2 linked regions of the Homo sapiens genome follow. The protein of the gene in region 2 purifies or fractionates together with the protein of the main gene of each other region. This does not show direct contact. Each region holds a gene or a part of one and is shown on either strand. Other genes may lie near its edges. The genes, in order: EHD2 and MYOF.

Evidence for each region.
Region 1: the proteins of MYOF (region 2) and EHD2 purify together in Homo sapiens (affinity purification with western blotting, with the first as the bait; one study listed by BioGRID). This does not show direct contact.

What each region holds. Positions count from the first base shown.
Region 1 is NC_000019.10:47,711,845-47,716,406, reverse strand, and holds the start of EHD2 (EH domain-containing protein 2), read right to left. Parts: upstream 2,986-4,562; 5' UTR 2,869-2,985; intron 1-2,868. UniProt on the Homo sapiens protein: ATP- and membrane-binding protein that controls membrane reorganization/tubulation upon ATP hydrolysis. Plays a role in membrane trafficking between the plasma membrane and endosomes. Important for the internalization of GLUT4.
Region 2 is NC_000010.11:93,349,596-93,353,406, reverse strand, and holds part of MYOF (myoferlin), read left to right. Parts: intron 1-1,560; coding exon 1,561-1,742; intron 1,743-1,835; coding exon 1,836-1,994; intron 1,995-2,111; coding exon 2,112-2,210; intron 2,211-3,437; coding exon 3,438-3,599; intron 3,600-3,811. UniProt on the Homo sapiens protein: Calcium/phospholipid-binding protein that plays a role in the plasmalemma repair mechanism of endothelial cells that permits rapid resealing of membranes disrupted by mechanical stress. Involved in endocytic recycling.

The sequences.
Region 1 (4,562 bases), on a different chromosome or scaffold from region 2:
TGGCAGGTGGCAGGAGGAAGAATGGAATTGGGCCAGGCGCGATGGCTCACACCTGTAATCCTAGTATTTTGGGAGGCTGAGGTAGGAGGATTGCTTGAGGTCAGTAGTTGAAGACCAGCCTGGGTAAAATAGTGAGACCCCCATCTCTACAAAAAAAATAATTAGCTGGGCATGGTGGTGCATGCCTGTAGTCCTAGCACTTTGGGAGGCTGAGGCAGGAGGATTGCTTGAGCTCAGGAGTTCAAGGCTGCAGGCTGCAGTGAGCTATGATCATGCCGCTGCACTCCAGCCTGGGCTACAGAGTAAGACCCCATCTCAAAAAAAAAAAAAAAAAAAAAGGCCAGGCACAGTGGCTCATGCCTGTAATCCCAGCACTTCGGGAGGCTGAGGCAGGTGGACCACCTGAGGTCAGGAGTTTGAGACCAGCCTGACCAATATGGTGCAATCCTGTCTCTACTAAACATACAAAAAATTAGCCAGGCCTGGTGGTGGCCACCTGTAGTCCCAGCTACTTGGGAGGCTGAGACAGGAGAATCACTTGAACCCAGGAGGCAGAGGTTGCAGTGAGCCGAGATCCCGCCACTGCACTTGACAGAGCGACACTCCATTTCAAAAAAAATAGGGAGATCGTAGCGAACCAGCTGAAGGAGGAGAAAGATTAATGGTGACATGGTTGAAGAAGGGGGATTGATGGTGGTAGTGGAAGACCAAGAGATGGACAAGGCGAAGGATGCAGAAGCTGCCTGGAAGAAACGGATTCCTTAATCGCTTCATTCATTTCTTCCTCCCTTCTCCCTTCCATCATTTGACACCTTTTCACTGAAATCACTCACTCCATGCTTCAGGCACTGTGGACCCAGAAATGAGCCAGAGATCATCCCCTACCCACCCAGGGCCCCCAGTAAGGACCCAGACACATGCCAGACATCCAGAGGAGGGCATGAGAAACAGACCACAGCACCAGTAAGACTCAGGGCAGGGTTGACTTTTGAGCTGCTCCATGAAGAGCAGGCAAGACAAGGGGATTTAGGCAGAGAGGACGGTGCGTGCAAAGGTCTGGGGATGTGAAAGGTCCTGGTGTACTGGGAGCCATGAAACATCTGGGTAGGTGGCCAGACACAGGGGCACAAAGAGGAGGGGTGAGAAATGGAGCTGAGAAGGTTGCCTGGGTGCACCCAGGTCATGAGGGCTGTTGGGTGTTAACAAGAAAAATAATGCAACATTTATGATCACTGCATGCCAGGTACTGTACTAACTCACTTAACATTTATAACCCTGTAAAGTAGGTCTATTATCATCCCTGCTTTGCTTTGCTTTTCTTTCTTTTTATTTATTTATTTATTTATTTATTTATTTATTTATTTATTTGGAGATGGAGTCTCACTCTGTAGCCCAAGCTGGAGTGCAGTGATACAATCTCAGCTCACTGCAGCCTTCACCTCTGGGGCTCAAGGGATTCTCCTGCCTCAGCCTCCCAAGTAGTTGGGACTAGAGGCATGCACCACCACACCCAGTTAATTTTTTTTTGTATTTTTAGTAGAGATGGGTTTCACCATGTTGCCCTGGGTGGTCTCGAACTCCTGAGCTCAGGTGATCCACCCACCTCAGCCTCCCAAATTGTTGGGATTACAGGTGTGTGCCACCATGCCGGCTCATCTCTGCTTTTTTAACAAGGCAAAGGAGGCTCAGGAAGACAGCAATAAATTACCCAAGATCACTTAGCTGGAAAATGCTCAAGCTGGGACTCAAACACAGGCAGCCTGACCTCAGAGGTTGCAATCCTATTATAGGTCTAAAGATCTGAGTTAGGGAGGTTAGCCATGACCAACCCAGGAGCAATGAGCACCTCCAGCACCCAGACTGTGTTCTCTATCTTCCCTTACTAGCCTTTTATTCACCGTAGGATCTGTAGTGATGTCCCCTCTTTCATTCCCGATATCAGCCACAGGTGTGGGTATTTGCTTTTTTTAAAAAAGAAAAACAAAAACGATTGCTCCCCGTTGATGCTTATGATTTTACTGATCTTTTCAAAGAATCAACTTTTGGTGAGATGGGAGTCTCTAAATACCATTCCCCACTAAAAGAACCTGGGACTCCTTAGAGAAATGGTGGATTCCAGGGCGGGGGCAGGGAAGAACAAGTGAGCCTGGGTCAGAAGGTGAGGAAGTGCTCAAAGGCCGATAGGGCATGTTACAGGGACAGAGGACCCAGCTTGCAGGGGTGCCCAGTGGCCAAACATGGGGCAATTTGAGCATCAAAATAACTGCAAATCAAATATGCTAAAATCCATAAAATCATGAGACTTAAAAGGGGTGGCCAGGGAGTAGGGGAGATAAAAGCAAAAGGAGTTCGTAAAGGAGTGGCAAGAATGGAAAAGAGAGGCAGGATCTGGGATGTGGGCAGAGGGAGAGGGCTCTGGGCGGTGTCCCAGGCAGGGAGGGCCCTGAGAGAGAGCTGGGGAGAATGCTATCAGCGGTGGCCGATGGAGCTGGTGAGGCAGGAGAGGGGCTCTTGAGTGGCTGGAGGGACCAAGTTAGCTGATATGGATGAGGGCGTGGAGGGAGACCCTGCAGAGAGGATCTCTTCTAGCCCAGGGGATAGGGAGGGGTGTTGGGGGAGGATGGAGGAGACTGGGGGAGTGTGAGAGGCTGCGAAAGACTGGAGGAAGAGTGGGAGGAAGAGTGGGAGGAGTGGGAAGAGTGGGGGACATGGTTACAGACTGGGGGGACTGGTGAAGACTGGGGGACACCTGGGGAGACCGTTACAGACTGGGGACAGGGTGGCAGGGAGCAGGGGTCAGGCATGAGGAACCAGGGCAGGCTTGGGCGGGGGTCGGGAGGCGACAGCTGCGGTGCTGGGAGCACTCACCGACGGGGCGCGCTGGCGGCTGCAGCGGGCTGGGCAGGCTGGGAGAGGGTGGGGTCCCGCGAGGATCCGAAGCGCCCGCGGAGCGGCCTGTGCTCGCGGTCCCGTCCGGAGCCGTCTGAGCCGGGTGGGGCCCGGAGCGGGGAGGACGGGAGGGAGGACAGGAGGGAGGGGCGGGACGAGGCGCCCCCCTCAAAACCGGGCGCCCGGCCTCTGGCGCCCCCTTGTGGGGAGTGGGGAAGACGCCTTAGCACGGCGGGCGAGAGCTCCAGCGTCCAGCCTGGGGTTCGAATTCCGCCTCCACCTCCAGCGTTGGGCTGCTCCCCAGTCTGTCTCTCTTCTTAACACGGGAATCACAACAGCAGCAGCAATAATAGTAACAATAACAGGTCGGGCGCCCTGGCTCACGCCTGTAACCCTAACACTTTGGAAGGCCAGGGTGGGAAGATTGCTTGAGGCCAGGAGTCCAAGACCAGCCTGGACAATATAGCGAGACCCCATGTCTATTAAAAATAATAATAAATAATAAAATAATTTAGCCAGGCACAGGGGTGCACACCTGTGATCCCAGCAACTTGGAAAGCTGAGGTGGGAGGATAGCTTGAACCCAGGAGGTCAAGGCTGCAGTGAGCTATGATTGTGCCACTGCACTCCAGCCTGGGTGACAGAGCGAGACCTCACCTCTAAAAAAAATAATAGGACGGGGCGCGGTGGCTCACGCCTGTAATCCCAGCACTTTGGGAGGCCGAGGCGGGTGGATCACTTGAGGTCAGGAGTTCAAGACCAGCCTGGCCAACATGGTGCAAACCCATCTCTACTAAAAATACAAAAAAATTAGCTGGGCGTGGTGGCGGGCGCCTGTAGTCCCAGCTATTTGGGAAGCTGAGGCAGGAGAATCACTTAAACACAGGGGAGGTGGAGCTTGCAGTGATTGCGCCACTGCACTCCAGCCTGGGGACAGAGCAAGACTCCATCTCAAAAATAAATAAATAAACAAAAATTAGCTGGATGCAGGCACGCACCTGTAGTCCTAGCTACTTGGGAGGCTGAGGCTCCCAAGTTCCAGAATCACTGGAACCCAGGAGGCAGAGGTTGCAGTGAGCCAAGATCACGCCACTGCACTCCAGCCTGGGTGACAGAGTGAGAATCCATCGCAAATAAATAAGTAAATATAATATTAATATTAAAACTTAAGGGAGTTGATGAAACTTCTCAGCTGACAACCCTCCCTGGCTCTCCTCTCTCTCAGAGTAAAAGCCGAAGTCCACACCAAGGCCCACAAAGCCTAGCATGATCCACCTACATCTCCCCTGTCCCCCTTCCTCAGGCGGCTCCAACCGCCGTGGCCTCCTCACCATTCCTCAGACACACCCCCAACCCTCCAAGTTCATGGCCTTTGCACTTGCTGACTCCTCTCCATGGAGTACTTTCCCCATAGGGATCTGAATGCCTCACTCTCTCCCCTCCTTCAGGTCCCTGCTCAAATGTCACCTCCTCAGAGAAGTCCTCCAGGATCACCCTGGCTAAGGTAGAACCCACTCTCTACCTCTTATCACTGCCCTATTTTTCTCCACAGCCCTCCCAACCACTCTGCATATTCCACATTTCTCTGCCTAAGGGACTGTCTTTGCCCTGAGAACATGAGCCCCGTGAGGGCTTTGCACAATGCCCAACTCCCTGCAGGGGCTCAGTAAACA
Region 2 (3,811 bases):
GCCTACAGCACCAGGCTTTGAGCAGTTTGGAGTTCATTTTAACCTCCTCCTCTGCCTGCTCCCCACATTCCCAATACCATAAAACCATGAGGCTTTTTCTTCTCTTGCACTGACACCCAGCTGCTTTTGTTGCTTCGGACTGGTTCTGAGAGGAAGGCTATTGGCAAGGGACAGGGGAGGAGGGGAGAACATGCCTGTCTGGGGATTTGAGTCCTTGCCGCTGAACCATGGATAGTTCAGGCTATCTGGGGAGAATTCCAGTTTGGGACTCAAAGCCCAGCAGAGTTTCCCTGGGCCTTCTATGAAAACACCTCTTAACCCATTTCCCATTTGCCCCGAGAAATGAGTGCTGGCAGCGAGCTGCACTTTTTTATTCCAAACGGAAAGTTTGTTAAAGCATTTGACTGACACTCTCATGTGCTCACATCAATTTTGAAGCGTGTTCCAAGCACTAATATTTACCAATATTTGTGAATGGTTTCCTTTTCTTAGAAATTTGAGCAGATTCAAGGTTATCTCTGCAATATACATCTCCAACAGGGTCTTTGAAGACATTTTCAAATATTTTCCACCAGGGGGCACTCTATCACTGAAAGTTAAAAAAACATCTTTCCAAAGTTCTTGACTAAAGCTTCATAAAACTCTAAGCACATTCCTTGCAGTTTGAGATAGAAGAATTATCATCAGGGCAAAAGCAAAGGGTTCATATGATGGCTCCACTGCTAGAAACCAAGCACTTTTGGCTTATACAAGAGTTTCAGGCTAGATATTGTGTTATTTTTCAGATAAGTCAGCCCCCAGGCAACTGCAAAAAGTTTGATGAAATTATTTAGCAAGGAGGAGAACATGGATTATTTCTCCATACATAATATTGCTTTCTCTCCATTCTTAAGTATAGTGAGACAAAGTTTTCTGCTGTCACAGATTGTAAACTCTATGAGCATCTGAGCTTTTCCGGCTGCTGTTATACTCTTGAGACCTGGAACTCAATAAATATTTGCTGAATAAATCGATTACCATCAACATTAGAAACAACTATAATAAAAACTAGCATTTATCAGATACTTCCTATAGGACAGGCTCTGTCCCAAATAGCTAACATTCCTTATATCATTTCATCCTCTCAACACCGTGAAGCAGATATTACTTTCATTGCATGGAGGAGGGGATCAACGTTTAGGAAGATTATTTTTTCCCTCAAAGTTATGCAGCAGGGGTGAAGTGTGGGTGTTGACCCCAGGTGTATCTGACTGCAGAGCCTCACTCAACCATGAGTGCAGTACTTTTGCAGAGAAAAACTATGGGCCCCATTAACCTTGGTGGGGACATACTCTAAAGAGTGACCTCTCAGTACACATCAGGGTCTCGCTTCAGGTGCCTCTGCTGCAGTGCCAGAACCTTCCATGGGGAACTCCCTGCTCCCTAGAAACCCTATCTCCAGGCAGGTGGTCAGAGCCCACTGTCATTATATCCAGAGGAAAAGAATATGGTTGCACTGAGTGGTTCTGGGGAGTTAGATTTTAGCCGTGGCCCCGTTGTTATTCTCTTTTTCTGTTTTAGATCCATATGCTCATATCTGTTTCCTCCATCGGAGCAAAACCACTGAGATCATCCATTCAACCCTGAATCCCACGTGGGACCAAACAATTATATTCGATGAAGTTGAAATCTATGGGGAACCCCAAACAGTTCTACAGAATCCACCCAAAGTTATCATGGAACTTTTTGACAATGACCAAGTGGTAGGTCGTTTAGAATTTCTAAGATAACTTGGGGATGATGGAGATTTGAAGGGATGATTGTCGGGGAATTTAAGGATCACTTTGTTTCTCTAGGGCAAAGATGAATTTTTAGGACGAAGCATTTTCTCTCCTGTGGTGAAACTGAACTCAGAAATGGACATCACACCCAAACTTCTCTGGCACCCAGTAATGAATGGAGACAAAGCCTGCGGGGATGTTCTTGTAACTGCAGAGCTGATTCTGAGGGGCAAGGTACATTGCTGTGTTCTTCCTCATGTATTCTGTCAGCTGCTTAAAATGCATGTTAATTCTAGGCACTGTTTGCTTGAACTAAAGTGAGGCATTGACATATCCATGTTTGTTTCACAGGATGGCTCCAACCTTCCCATTCTTCCCCCTCAAAGGGCGCCAAATCTATACATGGTCCCCCAGGGGATCAGGCCTGTGGTCCAGCTCACTGCCATTGAGGTATGCTGCTCCCCACGTGTTACTCATCAAATCAAACGGATGTGACTGCAGGACAGGAATCTTTTGTATAGAACATAGAATCCTGCTGCATATTTTCTTGCTATCTCCAACTTCCTTTACAACTTGTCCAAAAACTGGAGGTATTCATGGGAGTAGAAGGCTTGTTGAAGCAACAAGGACAGGTCAATTCTAACATTCCTGAGGGCATCTAAACTCCTCATTTACTGGGAGCCAGCAGGTTTCTGAGTTTTTCAGGTCAACTGGAGACCTGGGAGAGGGAAGATGGACGAGAAGAGAATGACGGTGTATATGCTGAGAGATGGGGGCATGGCAGGGAGGCAGAGATGGAAGTTGGATGGGAGCAGTGAGCAATGTTGACATGTCAGATACAAGCTGATGACCCCAACAAGGTGGCTTGATAGACAGTGTCTGGCCCACTCTCAAGACTTTCCCCGTCCAGTCAAGCAGCTGTTAACACCCCAAGATTTCCCTTCTCTGGCTGTCCTGCTAAGAGTTCTCAAAGGCTGAGGCTATCACTTCGAAATGCTTCCATGTCAGACACCGTGTTAAGAAGTTTACAGGTGGGCTGGATGCAGTAGCTCACGCCTGTAATTCCAGCACTTTGGGAGGCCAAGGCAGGTGGATCACTTGAAGTCAGGAGTTCGAGGCCAACCCGGTCAACATGGTGGAACCCTGCCTCTACTAAAAATACAAAAATTAGCTAGGCATGGTGGCACACACCTGTAATCCCAGCTACTTGGGAAGCTGAGACATGAAAATCACTTGAACTCAGGGGGTGGAGGTTGCAGTGAGCCTAGTTCGTGCCACTGTACCCCAGCCTGGGTGACAGAGTGAGACTCTGTCTCAAAAAAGAAAAAAAAAAAGTTTACAGGTGGTCATCAATATAACCCTATGACAGATAATACGATCAGTCTTGTTTGTAGATGAGACATAGGGAGGTGAGTTACCTTGTCAGCATTGACACAGCTATTAGATGGCACAGCCAGGATTTGATTCCTATACTCTTAACTGCATTGCTTTTTTAGGGGCTCAGGCAGGAGAAAGAAAGGGGCAAAACCACTTTCTTTGGATGACCTACAAGCTTACTAGGATAATGTTCAAATTAATCTTAAAGACTTTGCCAGTAATTAAGACAGAATTTTTCCTTTTGAATATTATTTTTAAAGTGCTGAGTTACCTTCCCCTCTCTTTAAATCGTTTTCATAGATTCTAGCTTGGGGCTTAAGAAATATGAAAAACTTCCAGATGGCTTCTATCACATCCCCCAGTCTTGTTGTGGAGTGTGGAGGAGAAAGGGTGGAATCGGTGGTGATCAAAAACCTTAAGAAGACACCCAACTTTCCAAGTTCTGTTCTCTTCATGAAAGTGGTACAGTATCGATTCTCTGTGATCACCCATGCGCGTTGAAATATGAAAGTATGTGCCTCACACACACACACACAAACACAGAGTTTATTTCCAAAACCTGACAAATAGAAAAACCCTGCCTTATATTCAGCTTGTCAGTGACTTTTTCCCCTTAAATTCTCCCACTGTAGTGATGATTTCTTAAAGCTTCAAAATAACTCCAGTGGCACAGA